Homo sapiens: one gene and its partners. The protein of the gene in region 1 purifies or fractionates together with the protein of each later gene. This does not show direct contact. Each region holds a gene or a part of one and is shown on either strand. Other genes may lie near its edges.

What was found. The genes of interacting proteins can lie anywhere in the genome.
Region 2: the proteins of HHIPL1 (region 1) and MYO1D purify together in Homo sapiens (affinity purification with mass spectrometry; one large-scale study listed by BioGRID and IntAct). This does not show direct contact.
Region 3: the proteins of HHIPL1 (region 1) and ACOT9 purify together in Homo sapiens (affinity purification with mass spectrometry; one large-scale study listed by BioGRID and IntAct). This does not show direct contact.
Region 4: the proteins of HHIPL1 (region 1) and PEAK1 purify together in Homo sapiens (co-immunoprecipitation; one large-scale study listed by IntAct). This does not show direct contact.

The regions. Positions count from the first base shown.
Region 1 is NC_000014.9:99,642,736-99,648,760, forward strand, and holds the start of HHIPL1 (HHIP-like protein 1 isoform a precursor), read left to right. Parts: upstream 1-2,393; 5' UTR 2,394-2,472; coding exon 2,473-2,727; intron 2,728-2,953; exon of another isoform or gene 2,954-3,120; intron 3,121-6,025.
Region 2 is NC_000017.11:32,754,761-32,758,624, reverse strand, and holds part of MYO1D (unconventional myosin-Id), read left to right. Parts: intron 1-2,962; coding exon 2,963-3,133; intron 3,134-3,864. UniProt on the Homo sapiens protein: Unconventional myosin that functions as actin-based motor protein with ATPase activity. Plays a role in endosomal protein trafficking, and especially in the transfer of cargo proteins from early to recycling endosomes.
Region 3 is NC_000023.11:23,729,413-23,733,276, reverse strand, and holds part of ACOT9 (acyl-coenzyme A thioesterase 9, mitochondrial isoform a precursor), read left to right. Parts: intron 1-59; coding exon 60-105; intron 106-2,290; coding exon 2,291-2,461; intron 2,462-2,712; coding exon 2,713-2,750; intron 2,751-3,864. UniProt on the Homo sapiens protein: Mitochondrial acyl-CoA thioesterase. Catalyzes the hydrolysis of acyl-CoAs into free fatty acids and coenzyme A (CoA), regulating their respective intracellular levels. Regulates both mitochondrial lipid and amino acid metabolism.
Region 4 is NC_000015.10:77,108,741-77,112,604, reverse strand, and holds part of PEAK1 (inactive tyrosine-protein kinase PEAK1), read left to right. Parts: 3' UTR 1-3,864. UniProt on the Homo sapiens protein: Probable catalytically inactive kinase. Scaffolding protein that regulates the cytoskeleton to control cell spreading and migration by modulating focal adhesion dynamics. Acts as a scaffold for mediating EGFR signaling.

The DNA of each region.
Region 1 (6,025 bases):
GTATGATTTCGATCTCCTGACATCGTGATCCGCCCACCTTGGCCTCCCAAAGTGCTGGGGTTACAGGCATGAGCCACTGTGCCCGGCCTTCATTTTTTTTCTTAAAGTGGACCCCTCTCTGCTTCTATTACCCATTTGTCCTTGCCAATGTCCTTGTCAATATTCAGAGATGTTTGGTCTTGATGTTGTCAACTTTTTCCACCAGAGCCCTTAACATATTAGTCATAGTTATTTTAAATTCCATGTCTGGTAATTTCAGCATCTGTGTCATGTCCCAGGCTGGCTCTGATGCTCCTTCTGACTGACTTTTTTTTTTCTTTTTTGAGACAGAGTCTCGCTCTGTCACCCAGGCTGGAGTGCAATGGCACGATCTCAGCTCACTACAGCCTCCGCCTCCTGGGTTCAAGCGATTCTCATGCCTCAGCCTCCCAGTAGCTGGGATTATAGGCGCGTGCCACCACGCCTGGCTAATTTTTGTATTTTTAGTAGAGACGAGATTTCACCATGTTGACCAGGCTGGTTTCGAACTCCTGACCTCGGGTGATCCGCCCGCCTCAGCCTCCCAAAGTTCTGGGATTACAGGCGTGAGCCACTGTGCCCGGCTCCTGACTGTGACTTTTCTTATCTTTTTTTCATGCCTTGTTGTTTTTCTGGAAAGCCAATCAGGATGTACTAGATAACAGAAACCGAGGTAAATAGGTATTAGGGTGAGGATTTATGTTACTCTGGCTGGGGCTGGGCTGTGTTTGACATTTTCTGTGGCTGTAGGAGCCCAAACCTCATGGCTGTGGCCCAGGCTCTGTGTCACTTCCACCTCTGTACACTCATCTGGAGCCCTGTGTTGATGTGTGACTATCACCCAGTTCTGAGTCCCAGCTGGGAAGTAGGCGCCATCGTGCCCTCCGATTCCATCCTGGCTCTGCCTATTCCCAGCTGTCTGTGCAGGAAGCCGTTGCAGGCCGCATTTCCCACCCTAGCAGCCCTCTGCTAGGTTCAGCCAATGAAAGCCACAGGTGGGAGTTGGAGGGGAAGTGGCAGGGAGAAGCCGGGGTATTTCTCCTCCTCTGTCTGTGCAGAATCTCTGACAGTGGCTATCTCCAGCTGTGGCCAGACAGGCCTTGTGAGGGTCCAGCTTTGACAAGGTGACCATAGCTCCTTGGCTCCAGTAACATCTGCTCTTCCTGCATCAAGGACCTGGGGACTGTTCCTACTGTTGCTGATCTCAAGGTTACTTCACTGAGCCCTGTATGGCTTCTTAGCCTCTTTGGCTTCAAGTCCCTGCGTTAAATTCCCCGTGTTTCAAATACTCAGAGATGTTTGGCTGTGCGGAGACCCTGACTCTTACACTGCACCTGTTCAGGCCAGAGCCACAGACCTCTGAGTGCTCCAGCCCTGCCGCATCTCATCCACCCCCAGCTCTGCCAGGAGCATGGGCCCAAAGACAGAAACATGATCCCCCAGGACAGTCCAAAGAGACCTGCAGAGGACGGATGTGTGCGTTGGGGCCATGAAGATGGAGTAGGAGCTCACTGGACAGAGAAGATGGGGAAGGACACTCCAGGGAGAAGCAAACGCTGAGGTCCACTTGAGAAAAATGCCTGGGTGGTTTTGGTGCTGTGAGATTCTAGGGTAGGTGAGACAGTGTGTGTGTGTTTGTCTGTGTGGGTGGTTTTGGTGCCATGAGATTCTGGGGTAGGTAAGACAGCGTGTGTGCGTCTGTATGTGTGTGGGGGGGTGGGGCGGGGTTGGGTCTGAATCTCCAGCGGGGGCAGCGGAACAAAGGGCTGGATGCCCATCCCAGGAGGTAGATTCATCAGTGCTCCCTATGCGAGAGTGGAAGTGGGGAGCCCCAGTGGGTCCTGGGCTGCAGGAGAATCCGCTGCCCCAGGAGCAGAGACTGGGAAGAAGCCCACAGTAAGGGCAAAGGGTGGACTGCGGAGACTGCTCCGTCCTCCCTCCCCACCCCTACGCCAGGTTTCACTTCTCCCTGAGAGTCCTGGGGCAACACCCCCTGTTCTTTCCCTCGCACCCCCATTTTTAAAATGTTACGTGGGAGCTTTCGGGGACGGGCTGCGGGCATCCGTTTCCCTAGCCCAGTGGGAGGTGGAACCGAAGCCCAGGAGTCCAGGCCTCTGGCCCTGCGCCTCCCTGGCTAAAGAGCGCCCTGTGGGGAGGAAGCAGGGCCCCAGGCGGAACCGGGAAAACACACCGGGGCTTTAAACAGACCGGGCCACTCCCATCGAATTTGGAAAGCGGTTAAAAGAGGTCGTGCCGCATTCTGCGCCGCGTCCCTCTTCCTTCAGTCCCGCCGAGTGTCCCCGACCAGAGGTGACCTCCTAGAAGGGGAGGTCCCCAAACTCGAGGCCCTGCGTGTAGGGAAGGGGAGCGCCCGCCCCTTCCCTGCCGCCGCGAGCGCCCCGGGAGGGGACCGGGGCTGCCGTCCCTCCGCCTCTTCCCCCGCGGGGCGTAGCGATGGCCCGGGCCAGGGCCGGGGCGCTGCTGGCGCTTTGGGTGCTCGGGGCCGCCGCGCATCCGCAGTGCCTGGACTTCAGGCCGCCCTTCCGGCCGACGCAGCCGCTGCGCCTCTGCGCGCAGTACTCGGACTTCGGCTGCTGCGATGAGGGGCGCGACGCCGAGCTGACCCGCCGCTTCTGGGCCCTGGCGAGCCGCGTGGACGCCGCCGAGTGGGCCGCGTGCGCCGGCTACGCGAGGGACCTGCTGTGCCAGGTGAGCGGGCGCGCGGCCACCGGGCGGGGCGGGGCGCGGGAGGCCGAGTCCTGGAGCAGAGATCGGAACCCCGCGGGGGCGAGGGCCAAGAGTGGGCGGCGGACTCGGGAACTCTAAGCCCCAACAGGGAGTCATTTGGCACGGGGCGGGGAGACCGCGCATCCCAGGACGACTCTTGGCTTTGCCATTCATTAGTTTTGTGACTTGGGCCTTCTCGGGGCCTCAGTTTCCCCTCCTGAAGCAGGAAGGACGGACGGACGGACAGATGATGTCATCATTTCCTCAGAGGTTGGGGGCTCTTCTGCCCCAGTCCCCTGGAGTCGACCCCTCAGCGTCCCACCCCGAGCAGCTGCACCCTTGTCGGGGTACCAAGGTGGAGAGGCATCTGTCCCGGTCAGTGCTCCTTTGTGTTGTCCCCGGGGCAGTGAAAGCAGGGGGCCCTGGCGTGGGCGTGGTCAACGTGTGGCCCGGGTTTGTTGAGGGGGTTGGGGCCACTGTCCCCCACGAGCGTCTCACCCCCATCCTGATGCCCTTGCCACTTCCGCCACCACCTCTGTGGGTGCTGTGCCCTCTCCTGGGGATGGCGCCCTGGCCTGCAGAAGCTCTCTCAAGACTGAGCGACAGCTCTTTGTTGAAGCCCCTGGGCCCCCCATCTTCCCTCTGAGGGTGGAGCCCCTGCTTCTGTGCACACCTGGTGGTGCCACCGCTATTTGTTTTCCTCTTGTGGGAGTCTGAGGCCCCAGGGCCTGACCACACCCAAGTGGGCAAATGTTGCCTGGCTGAATGCAGAAATGGAGCAGGACGGGCAGCCCCAAGGCATTCCTGCCTCAGCATCTGGGCAGTGAGAGGCCTGGGGTGGAGAGGCCCCAGGGGCCAGGGCCGTGTCCCAGCCTTCGGCCAGCAGGGGCAGGTGGTGTGGGGAAGGGCAAGAAGGCTGACTTGGAGTTGGAGTTTGATCCTGGCTCTGTCACTTCCCCAGCTTCGTGACCTGGGCAGGTCACTGCTGCACCTCACAATATCTTTAAAATGAAGCTGAGTATGGTGGCTTATGCCTGTAATCCCAGCACTTTGGGAGGCCAAGGTGGGCAGATCACTTGAGGTCAGGAGTTCGAGACCAGCCTGGCCAACATGGCGAAACTCCATCTCTACAAAAATACAAAAATTAACTGGGCATGTTGGGGAGCTCCTGTAATCCCAGCTACTCGGGAGGCTGAGGCAGGAGAAGCACTTGACTCTGGGAGGCAGAGGTTGCAGTGAGCCAAGATTGAGCCACTGCACCCCAGCCTGGGCAACAGAGCAAGACTCCGTCTCAAAAATATAATATAATATAATATGATATGATATGATATGATATGATATGATATGATATGATATAATATAATATAATATAATATAATATGATATAATATGATACATAAAATAAATAAAATAAAACCTTAACCACCCCCCTGGGTGGCCATGCAGATTAAATGCCACATACTAGGGGCTCGGTAAGTGTTTGCAGTTGGATTTCTCGAGGGCTTCCTTGGCCCTCACTGGCTGCCCAGCCCTGGGAAGGGTCCAGGTGAGGCTTGGAGCCCGAATCAAGGAAGACTCAGAGGCAGGCAGGGACTTGCCCAGTGGTCGCACAGCCCAGCGGTGGTTGAGGTGGGGACATGGACCACACTCGCTGAAGCGAGCTCATATCTTAGGTGGGAAGCAGTAGACTCTGGGAGGATGAGGAGGGGGCCCTGGGGAGCTCCAGAATGCAACAGAGGGTGGGCTGGCCACCTTTAGGTGGGCTCTGCTGGACTCCCATGCTGTACACCTCAAGGGCACGGGAATGGTCTGGCCAAGCGTCTGCCTCCCTCACCAGCCTGGGGGCTCCTCAGGACCAGGTCCTTTGGTCTCCCTACCCCCATCACATAGCAGAGTTCCTGCATCCATGCCACATTTGTCTATTGAGCACTTGCTATGTGCCAGGCTCAGCACGGCAGTGAGGTGGGCAGGTGGATGGAGGAAGGGAAGGGTCAGTCCTGATGCTGTCCCCTGGCAGGTTTCTTGGGAAACTTCCCAGGACAGCCTGGCTTTAAGCAACCAGCAGTTAGCAGGAGTGACCACTAACACTTCAGCCCAGGCGTCTCTGAGAGTGACCTCATGTCTGGAGTGAGCTTAGAGACGGCGGCTGAGGCTGGGTTATGGTTTCACTGACGGGGCCTCCTGGAGCATGCTGGCGGGAGGACCATGCTCTCTGCTAGCCAAGGCAGAGTCTGCATTTGGCACCTCCTGATTTCCACACGGGGAGGTGGTGGAGGTGCCTTATTCATAGGTCTCTGTCAGTGTGGAGGCACTCAGGCCTTCACACCTGCTTTGGGGGGATGGGAGACTCTTTCCTGAGGCTTTGCTTGTCCAGTAAGTGCCTGTGTCCTCTGGAGGAGAGAGGACAGCCATGGCACGTGGCATCCCCAGTGCATCTGGTGTGAGCTTCCACATCGCTAACCTCCCCTGTGACTGGGGTTGCCTCTCTAAGCCACTAAAATCATCAAAGCATGGTTTCTGATGGAGATCTCCATGAAATGTATTCTATGGGCTCATGTATTCAGCAGGCTCTTCCTGAGCCTGTTAGGAGGCAGCCCTGTGCTGGATGCTGGGCCCAAAAACAGTTGGCAAGTCACAGGCCCAGTCTCAAAAATCCCCTTCATCACTTCAGGAGACTGACACACACAGGAAGGTGCCAGAAATTCCTCAAGGAGTGTAGGAACAAGGCCACATACCTCAGGGAAGGCTTCCTGAATGTTGGTTGCATGTTGATAGCTCATTATTTACTGAACAAACACATACATCTTCTCCATTTGTTCCTCCCAACAACTCTATGAGGTTGGAATTCCTTTCCCCTTCCACAGATGAGGACATAGGCACAGAGAGGTTAAGGAGCTTGCCCACGGTTAAGAGCAGTAAGAGGTTAAGGAGCATTCCCCATGGGGAATGTGTGCGCTGGCTCCAAAGCCATTCTCCTAACCGCTTTGCCACACTGCCTCCCTCCTTGAAGCCCCACTGTGTCCCACAGTCCGTGGAGTGGACAGACATGCAAAGAGATAATGAAGTCCTAGCCAAGCTGACTGGCTGGAGCGCCCCTGGCGACGGAGCAGTGACTGCTGTAGAGAACTCACCCTGTAAGCTACAAGATTCAATGGAGTGAGTGTCGTGTCTGAGATATGGACAGAGTGCATTGGGAGCATCCATAAGGGCCAGGGATGGGACAGTCAGAGCCCTGGGAGCATGGAGGACAAGAGGAGACCTTTGAGTAGGCCTTGAGTCA
Region 2 (3,864 bases), on another chromosome or scaffold:
CAGTTGATTGCCAGTCTTATGCCATCTGTACTATACCCACCTACTCCCAGATTATTTTGAAGCAAATTTCAGATATCACATTATTTCATCTATTCAATTGGGTATCTATTCAGTAAATATTTCCATGTATTTCTCTAAGAGAGTTTTACAAAAACCATAATCACAATGCCATTATCATACCTAAAACATTAACAAAAATTCCTTAATATCATAAAATATCCAGTCAGTATACATGTTTCATATTTCCTTAATTGTCTTCTGGTTGTTGTTTTGCAGGTTAAATTTGGATCCAAATAAGTTTCTTACATTATGATTGATTGATAGGTCTCTTGCATATCTATAGATTTTCTCCATGTTTCTTTTTTTCCTTGAATGATCTCTCTTTGCAATCTTGTGTTGAAGAGAATGAGTCATTTGTTATGGAGTTCCCCACAGTCTGGATTTTGCTAATTGCATTCCTCAGGTGCCATTTAATATGTTTCTCTGTTTCTTGTATGTCCTGTATATTGGTTGTTAGATCTAGAGTCTTGACTGGATTCAGAGTCAGTTTTTTTCCACAGCCCATTTCATAGACTGTGTGTGAACTTCCACCAGGAGGTTCATAATGTCTGGTTATCTGGTACATTCACTTTTAAAAGCTTTCGATGCTGTAGTTTGCAAATCATTTTAACTATTGAGAACTTGATACTCAAGCACAAAGCTGTTTTATCTGGAGTGGGTATGAAAGGCCAGAGCCCCATGTCCCTAAGCTACCCCATCACAAGTCTTCTGGCTCCTGGTATCCCTTAGGAAACCTTACGGGAATGCCAAGTTGCTGGAAGAACTTAGTTTGAAAACTACTGGTTTAAGCAATGTTTGAAGCAGTATTAAACTTACAAACTGAAAGTTACTAGCAGAGACCAATAGCTTTTAATAATATAATTGGGATTTTAGGGAAGGTAATTCTTTAGTCCCTGGGACAAAAGACTTCGTCTTTAATTTCACAGTCCCGAAGTCTAAGATGTCAACTATTAATATAGAGCTCCTGCTTTTTGAGTATTTTTAGGATTTTTTTTCCAAAGATGGAAATAACTTTTCTCCCTAATTAGAAATGTAATAAATGCCCATAATGAAAGTAAATATTTAGACCTACACTGCTTCACCTCAGTACTACTGAGATTTTGTGCCAGATAGTTCTTTGTTGTGGAGGCTGTTCTATGCATTGTAGGATGTTTAGCAGCACCCCTGGCCTCTACCCACCAAATGACAGTAGCACCCCTACCCCATTTTGACTAGAAATGTCTCCTGATATTGCCAAATGTCCCCTGGTGAGCAAAATTCCCCCTATTCCCCTATTTGAGAAACTTTAGTTTAGACAGATCAGAAAAGTATAAAAAACAAAGTAAAAACTACCCAGTTTACAGGTTTCAGTCCATAAGATACAGAAGAGAACATGCAAGACTAGAAATGGAGCTAAAAGCCATGTACAAATAACTGGCATAAAACCTTGGATTTTAAAGCATGAAATGGGAATACATGAGTCACTTGAATGGTCTATTATGAGTATATAGACCTTATAGAAGGTAATGGAGACAGCAATCAGTTTAGGTAACTCCTGCGTAAGATGGGACATAGCAAGATTAAACTGTGTGATCATAAGCTGCCCCTCTTTGAGATGTGCAGCTTGCCTGAGTTGGCCTTTCTTTGTGTGCCTTCTGTGTGTAGTGATAGGTACATTGCAGGCTGTCAGAATAAACAGGTGTGGCAGAGGATTGTTGGACAAACCTTGTACATGTATAGTTGCTGAAAAGCCAGAAGTTATTTATAACTTCATTCACCTTGTGGAAGTAAAGGAAAAGCTTTTTCTTATCTTTTATAGATATTTATTTCTCAGAATTAAATTCTTTATATTATGCCTAGAAAAATGTAAAAATTCTACTGAATTTTTTCAAATTGTTCAAAATTCTATTGAAGCTTTTTAACTTTGGGGAAACCAAAAGAAATGCTCTTTTGGATTTTAGTCATTCAGGGTCATGTAACTAAAAATGCAAGTTCTTTTTTTTTTTTTTCCGTTTTAAGTGGAGTTTATTTAACACTAAGAGATAAAGGGTTGTTAACAAACACAATGACAAATGGACATCTGATTGGGATGAGGCATTATCCTGTACACATAATGTTGATATTTTTGTGTACCCTCAGTGCATGGCATTTACACATAGAGCCACTACTGCACAGCACAAGAGTATCTGAAGAGGCTGAATCAGAGTAAGGCTGTTTAAAAGACTGAAATTTTTTAGTATATATATTCTGCATGAAAACAGAACTTTTGAACTGGCAGGTAGAAGGCAACTCTGCCAAACACTACAGTTAAAGCCCCCACTTTAGTGCACAGTTCCACCCCTTCCATCTGCATGCGTGACACATTAACAGTATTTAAAGGTAAACGAGGCACTTTGTGGCAACTGCAGCCATCGTTATGAACATATTGCACAAAATTTCTAGAACTAAACATTTAACTTGTACCCTACTTTTATAAAATTGCAAGTTTTGTGTAGTACCTTAACTTTATTATGAAGTAGTATATCAGATAATACTTTAAGGTTATTTGTTGGCCCTTTGTGGAAGGTGGACCTTACAGTTAATGGCAGGCAGATTGGTATGAAGGAGTAGGGTTGGGTGTGGGATCTGGAGGCAGGATTAAAATGAGTTTGTAATGGGAGAAATGGTGTCTACCTTATTATCTTTGCCTTGGGCTGTACTAATCTCAGACGGTGTATTTCATGATAGAAAGTTAACAAAGAAATTTAAAAATAAACCTCTGTTAGAATGTGTACTCTTTTTAGCGTAAGACCTCTTTAATGTTATTCACACATTTGACACCAAAGTAGTTTTACCTGAACTCCTGATACAAATGGGAGCATCAGGGTTTAACCTGGCCTGGTCACTGTTCTCTTCAGAATTCCCTCCTTGCTGTGTCCTACAGATTGACTACTTCAACAATCAGATCATTGTTGACCTCGTGGAGCAACAGCACAAAGGGATCATTGCAATCCTTGATGATGCTTGCATGAATGTCGGCAAAGTCACCGATGAAATGTTTCTTGAAGCACTTAACAGTAAATTGGGCAAACACGCCCATTTTTCCAGCCGAAAGGTAATGTGTTTAATGACACCTTCTTCCTTTTATCTGTGAGGTTCTCCTTATTGTTTGATGGAGTTCAACGACTTTATATGTTGGGATAAAAGAATGTCCCCTTTAATAAGAAAGAAAAGTCATAAACATTCATTAAATGATTTGTTGCTGTGGATAAATTCTGCCTCTCTGGTTTATAGTATGAAGAAATTGATAAAATCATGTTAATCCAGGAGAGGGAGCTCCAGACTATGCAATTTGGTAGAAACAGGAAAAATGAGCATGATTCTTTAGAAAGCATGATGTCATTTGTAACCAATAGATGTAGAGTCCTTGCTCATGTGCTAGAATTTTACTCCTGCATCTGATAATTCTGGCATGGAAAATAGCTTTTGTCCTTGACTTTTTACTGTAATCCTCAGTAACAAAATGTGTTGTGCACTCTGCTGTACTTCTTCAGATCATATGACTTCCTTGAAAACAGAGAGATTCTAGTTGTAATTCTAGTTATTACAGAGAAACTTATTCATTAAATAAATGGGTATCCTTTTAACTCTCCATTTTTCAGGATCTAAAAAAGTGATAAACAGATCACATATCTGTAGTAATTGGTGACAATTGTGCTTATCAGACCTTTGTGCTGATATGGACATATCATTTGCATGGAATATTCCATTTGCATGGAATATGTTTGCTATTAATATTTGTTCAAGAAATTTGTGTTAGAAGAGGAACACATCATCATCGCCCCT
Region 3 (3,864 bases), on another chromosome or scaffold:
CATAATCCGTTTCTCATATTTCTTTGTTTCATGGAATGACCTCTTTATTTTTGTTTCAGTTCGAGATAAGTTGCGGGAGATAGTAGGAGCATCCACAAACTGGAGGTATGCATCTTTGTTTTCATTCATTCTTTTCATCCCCAAGGTATTATACTACACTGTATTTAGGCTCAGTTGATGGTCTCACAGTGGGGATGGGGAGCCCTATGTTCAGAGATAGGTTGAGAAGTATTTTGCTTGGGGGAGAAGGTCAACATTTCAACATACTCATCAGATGACACCTCATTGTCATGAAAGAAGATGATTTACGTATATTCTGCATTTTCAAAGTGCATTTAGGTGTATATTACTTCACTGATTCTCATAACAAAACTTGTGACGTGCTTACGACATATGTTCCTGTTCCTTTTTTTACACATGAAACTGAAACTCAGAGATTGAATGATTAAATGTCAGGGTTTGGGACTTGAACCCAAGTCGCTAAGTTTCTCTGTTTCATGCAACTTGACTCCTTTATTGCTTCTTGTCAGTTCAAAATTAGTCAGGCCTCCCATATTGTCTTTCTCTTTCTCGCAGTATTTCCTTGTTGTAAAGTAGGATCATATCCCTCTTGGTGTACATAATTTTGAGGCTAAAATGAGATAGAAAAAACACGAGTGATCACTAGATATATAATAATCTATTGTTGGTATAGAAATTATCTAATGACTTATTTTTAAATTCTTTATATGAAAAATTTCACTTTACTAAAAGGTAGAAAGAATGAATACCTGTGTACCCACCACCTGGATTCCATACTTATTAATATTTTGCCAAATTTTCCAATATACACATATTGCCTGAACCATTTCTAAGTAAATTATAGACACCATGACACTTCAGCGTGCATCTTCAGTAAACATTTTATAAAACCAGCCTTCGCTTATCTCCAACAAATAAGACATTCTCTCATGTAATCAAATTGACAGCAATTCCTTGCTAGTATATTACTCATCCATAGTCACATTTCCTCAACTGTTACCATTTTGTGTAATAGATTACTCCTTTTAACAAAAATGTTTTTATAGCTGTTTAAAAAACATCAAGATCCAATAAAGGATTGCATGTTGCATCTGGTGGTTATGACTCTTTAGTCTTCCCTAATCTAGAGTAATGGACAGTCGTCCTTCCCCTATTCTTCCCCCATGAGCTTGACTTTAAGGAGGCCAAGCCATTTGTCTTGAGAATGTTCCACATTCTGGATTTACTGGTGTCATTTAACTCATTCCTCTATCTCCTGTAGTTTTTGTAGGGTAAACATTTCTGGAAATAATACTTTATAAGTTAAGCTTAGAAAGACATCTTAGCTAATGTTCTTATCAACATTGTCGTTCCGTATCCCCTTGTCTTTCTTTTCTCTTTCACCTTAATCTTCTCTTCTTTTTCTTCCCTTTCTGTCTCCTTTTCATGTTATGTTCTTCTTTACCTTTTGTTCTGCCTTCCATACTTCCTTTGGATATAGTCCATTTTCCCTCCTCTGTCTCTCTTTCCTGAAATTGAAGGCAGAGAGAGAGAGAGAACTGGGGCTCAAAGAATCCGAGAACTGTCAGGTGAGAAATGGGAATATAAAGTAGAGTGGCCAAGCCATTCTTTAGCATATATATTTATATGTATATATATATACTATTTTGTCCATCTCTCTAAATTTTTAATTTAATTTCAAATATTCTGGTCTTTGAGTAAACTTTTTGATAAGGGTGAATATATGGCTCATTTGGGTATATCTATATCAGTTTTAAGTTTTCTTTTTTTTTTTTTTTTTTGAGACAGTCTTGCTCTGTTGCCCAGGCTGGAGTGCAGTGGTGTGATCTTGGCTCATTGCAACCTCCGCCTCCCACGTTCAAGCAATTCTCCTGCCTCAGCCTACCAAGTAGCTGGGATTACAGGTGCCCACCACCACACCTGGCTAATTTTTTGTATTTTTAGTAGAGACGGAGTTTTGCCATGTTGGCCAGGCTGGTCTTGAACCCCTGACCTCGTGTGATCCACCCGCCTTGGCCTCCCAAAATGCTGGGATTACAGGCGTGAGACACTGCACCTGGCCTTAAGAATGTTTTTAAGCTTGAGAAATGATACCGGAAATGATCAATTTCACCAAGTGGCAGGTGGGAAGGGAGGGAAGGAAGAGAAGGTGAAAGTAGGCCCAGACCTTCTTTTTCCTCCTTTGATGGTATCTTACTGGCCTGTGTACCACTGGAATTGTGGGCTAGAACTGCTCTTGTTTTATGAATCCTGCATCCTTTCTTCTCAGAGACCATGTGAAGGCAATGGAAGAAAGGAAATTACTTCATAGTTTCTTGGCTAAATCACAGGATGGACTGCCTCCTAGGAGAATGAAGGACAGTTATATTGAAGTTCTCTTGCCTTTGGGCAGTGAGCCTGAATTACGAGAGAAATATTTGACTGTTCAAAACACCGTAAGGTAACACAGTGCTATTTTTATGTATTTGTTTTTATTTCCTTGTTTTATAACAATTTTGAAATATAATTCACACACCATACAATTCGCCTGTTTAAAGTGTACAGTTCCATGGTTTTGATATATTTAGAGAGTTGTGCATCCATCACCACAGTCAATTTTAGAACATTTTCATCACCCTGAAGTGTGTTATTTATTTTTAAAGGGAGACCAACATGATTTGCATTTAATTCACTGTTTGCTTTATTTCACAGATTTGGCAGGATTCTTGAGGATCTTGACAGCTTGGGAGGTACTGGTATTATTTTAGTCTTTCTAATAGATACCTACAGATATACATTGAATTCTGTGACTGGAAAGGGCTCTTTTATTCTTTAACCTGCACAGATGATGATATTCTAAAGTGCACAAAAAAAGAAGGACATCGGCCGGGCGTGGTGGCTCATGCCTGTAATCCCAGCACTTTGGGAGGCTGAGGCGGGCGGATCACTTGAGGTTGGGAGTTTGAGACCAGCCTGACCAACATGGAGAAACCCCGTCTCTACTAAAAATACAAAATTAGCCAGTTGTGTTGGTGGGCGCCGTAATCCCAGCTACTTGGGAGGCTGAGGCAAGAGAATCACTTGAACCTGGGAGGCAGAGGTTGCGGTGAGCTGAGATCGTGCCATTGCACTACAGCCTGGGTAACAAGAGTGAAACTCCATCTCCAAAAAAAAAAAAAAAAAATGGCATCTACTACTTCTGAATTGTCATAATTTTTTTCTTATAAATGTAGATTCCTATTTAATGGAGGTATAGTCTGAATAATCTTTCTTACTAGTAACTTTAAAAAAAGAAAGTCTTAAACTTACAGAAAAGTTGCAAATACAGTATAAAGAATTTTTCTGTGGCCAGGCGCGGTGGCTCACGCCTATAATCCCAGCACTTTGGGAGGCTGAGGCAGGCAGATCACAAGGTCAGGAGATCGAGACCATCCTGGCTAACATGGTGAAACCCCATCTCTACTAAAAATACAAAAAATTAGCCAGGCGTGGTGGCATACGCCTGTAGTCCCAGCTATTCAGGAGGCTGAGGCAGGAGAATCACTTGAACCTGGGAGGTGGAGGTTGCATTGAGCCGAGATCGCGCCACTGCACTCCAGCCTGGGCGACAGAGTGAGACTCCGTCTCAAAAATAAAAAAGAAAAAAATTTTTTGTCCCTGAATTATGTGAGAATAAGTGGCTGACATGATGCCACATCACCCCCAAATATTTGAATATGTCTTTCCTACAAACAAGGACATTCTTCTACATAACTACAAAACAACCATAAAAAATCAGGAAATTAACACTGATGTGTCATACTGTCTAATCCTCAGGTCCCATTCAACTTTTGCCAGTGGTCCTTCATAGCAGAAGGATCCAGT
Region 4 (3,864 bases), on another chromosome or scaffold:
CTTTGACCTTGAAATCCCAAGAGTCACTCGAACAATGTGTGTGTACACTTGTGTGCCCATGTGTGCGTGCACACGCATGCTGGAAGTAGAGGCCAGGCCTCTAGAAAAGCAACCTGTGGCAGGGTTGACAGACATGTTCTCTGTGCCTAGTGAGTGAGTGAGCCCTGAGGCCCCTCATCTACCAGTGCAGAGTTTCCTTAAAGCCAAGACTGACTGTGCAGTATTACTTACATAGCACATTAGTGGCCTTGGAAATTTCTAAACTTTTAACATTTTTAACAGCTTTTCATGTGATTCATGTATAACAAAGAGGATCAGGAAAGGAAAATAATGTATTTTATTGTGCTCTTATTACTTTTTTAAGTGATTGTAATATGTGAGGCTCTATTTGGAGAATGTCCCTTATCCCCTGGCCAGCAATATAGGACTCACAGGAAAGAAGGCTGGTTAGCCCACAAAGAGTCTTGCCTCCTCTAGCCAGAGTGCAGGGCTCTGCTCCTAGGAATGGCCATGGAGTGGGCATGCTGCTGCAGGCCAGCAGTCTGCTCTTGGTGTCCTGTGGCATGGCCGCGCCTTGCCTTGAAGGTTGGTGTTTGGTTCATCTTAGCATAGAACATGTGCACATAACTCCTTGCCTGATTATGCACTGAAGGGCAGCACACAGACCACTGACCATGTCAGCCAGCACATTCCCTTAACCTCCCCCACCTCCCATCTTGCAATGTCTTGCATATTGAGATATACCTTCTCAATGTCATGTTCGTGGTGCCTTGCCCATGTAAATTTCAATGTTGACTATTTAATGAGGTTACATATTTAATGCTGAATGTTTCCTGGTCCCTCTATTTGTTATGTCTCTACTTATCTTTTTTTTTCTTTCTCTTTTTCTGTTATGATTTGGATCCAGTCTTCACTTTAACTCTATGGTATAATAAGCATGGACACCTCCACTACCATTATCTTACAGCACTGGTAAACCAAGCACCTCTTCATATCAGATGTTTTTAGTACTGTTTTTATATTCAGATTTGTTAAGGGCAAAAGATGAATGCAAACTAGCCAGAGAAAAGCCTCAGGCTTCCCAGAGACAGGTGGCTAGATTAATTTTTCTCTGGGTGATGGCCAAAGAATGTGAGATAGAGAGGGAAGGGGGTGTTACAGGTTAGAGCAGAATAGAGAAAGAAACTATATTTCTAGGCAAAAAGTACTACATGAGTTGGTCTTCAGAATATTTTTCCAAAAAAATGAAATTCAGTCAGTTTAACATTATCACAAATATTTTTCATTTTAATTGTGGTAGGACCTTTGAATTTGTTCATCAACTGGAAAGAAATCCTACCCTCTGTAGACACATACACACACATTTATATATCTATGTGTTTGAATTGTGACTAGTATAGCACTTTACATTTTCTCAAGTAACAGGAAGTTATTGCCTTCAATATTGATTGGAAATTGTTTTCTATTGAAGTCTATACTGTAGAGTTTTCCATTTATATTGAGAGTTTGAACAATTAAGCTCCTATTGGAACTTTTCCTTAAGCCACATGAGCATGAACAATCTCTGTGACACTTGGGTGCTAGAGAAACACAACAGTGGCTAAAGTAGCCAAGAGCAAGACTGAATGTATAGCAGAGTGCCTTGTTAGAGTGGTAACCTAGTCTTGGAAGCAATTCAGTGGATGTTTCATAAAGAGGACTAGAACTTCAAGAAGCCTCCTGTGCTGGCTGAGGTGAGCCCTTTTGGTATATGTACACTACTGGGTTGCCTAGAAGCCAATTCATGAAGAATAACAGCAGGATGAGAAAAAGAGTCACTGTAACCTGTGGAACAACAACGTAAGAATCACCAACCCCTAGGCTGAGCTAGAACTGGAAGCCAGGAATATGGCAATGAGTTTCAAGATTTGCCCTCAGAAGATGAACTGGGTGAGGTATGGGTTGAGGTGAGGGCACAAGCACTCATCCTACCTACCCTGCTGCTGTTGAGGAGCTAGAAGTAAAACATATTGGTTAGGATTTTAACAGTTGGAGTAGCCTCCCATTATCAGATTAAGTGGGGGTCACTTTTGCTTCCAAACTCAGAATAAGTTTGTAAACATGGGAAAGTCTAAGCCAAGAGATCTAAAGCTCTAGAAATATTAATGACATTTCTGGGAGTAAAACTACTAAAAATTATATCTTAAAAGTTTCTAGTAGTATGAAGTTCCCAGGCCAGGCGCAGTGGCTCACGCCTGTAATCCCAACACTTTAGGAGGGCGAGGTGGGCAGATCACCTGAGGTCAGGAGTTTGAGACCAGCCTGGCCAACATGGTGAAACTCCATCTCTACTAAAAATACAAAAATTAGCCGGGCATGATGGCAGGCACCTGTAATCTAAGCTACTCGGGAGGCTGAGGCAAGAGAATCTCTTGAACCCAGGAGGCAAAGGTTGCAGTGAGCCAAGATCACGCCATCGCACTCCAGCCTGGGAGATTGAGCAACTTCGTCTCAAAAAAAAGTTTCCAGGAAAGATCTTTGGGTCCTACTAAGCGTCTCAATTTTGAGTTATGAATACTTTGGTTCAGGGAAGTAACCTGACATTTGGTTTTGCTGGAATTAGGGTTTTCGCTAGATTTGACTGCAATTAGGATTTCTTCTAGATTTTACCAGCAGTGATCTGAAAAAGTACAGGCTAGTCACAGAAATAGAGATGGATTTAGGATACTACACTATATTTCAAATGATTCTAGATGTGTAAATATAGTATGAACATTCTTGGAGAGGGGTGAGACAAACTGGACTTGCTGGGCCAACCCTGGCATGTTTTTCATTCTCCTCACTAGTTGACAAGGATTGAAAATTCCGCTCCAGCCTAATGAGTGAACAGGATGGCTGCCCACAAAACCAAGTTATTAGCTTTATGTCATCGAAGCTCATATTCTCAAAGGCCCAAAGTGCTGTGCCGAGACAAATCCAAGTGCTGCTCTTGCTGAAGTGCGCACTGAAGTCCAGCTGTCCGTGCTTACAGCAGTGCCAAAAGTGGGGATTCCATGGACCAAAAACGGTGCCATAAGGGAAGCCAGAAGAGTTGCAGTGCAAGATCCTGGGAGAGATTATACCAAAGAAATCAAGCCTTTTTATCCTGATGCTTCTAAGATGATGAGGGTGAGCTGTGACAGATGCTGTGGGAGGGGAGTTCACATACATTCCATGTCAAGGCATTTAGCTGATAAATCCATCCTCAGAAAAGCACCTTTTTAAAAAGAAGTCCATTTTGTATATTAGAAGATGATGATGATGATGAAGATGAAGAAAGCCCTGGCAGATACAAAGTTCCTCAGTATTTAAGGAGAAGGATCTCTTCCATGTCCCCTTGACATGACTGTGGCTATTGCCCAAACCTCAGCTTGAGAACATCATATAATACTGAGAGCGGAAGATTTTTTTAAAGAGATATGGTAGTTTAAATAGGTTTGTTTAAAGAACTCTTGGGAAATTTCTTAACAAATTGTAATTGTTTTTATAAACCTTCCTACAGAGTTGTGTACCATTCATCATCACCATCATTTAATATCTGTAAGTGCCCAGAAGGTACAAGGTGCTATACAGCCGTTAAACACCCCCTCCCTGCAACTGTTTAAAATTAGAATAGATTTTTGCATCAACCACTGCTAGAAGCTTTCCCCACCTAGGTGGGCTGCAAGGGCCTGCATTCCCAACATCCCATTACATGTTTCCCACTCCAGAAAGTCTCTGGGTTTATTCCAGCTTTTTATCTTGACGTGTCCCATTCACCCCCATGGTTTGGTTTGGTTTGGTTTTGTTTTTTAAATCAAGAAAGTTTCAGGGAATCAAAAGAGGTCGGACATTTTTTAACCTAGC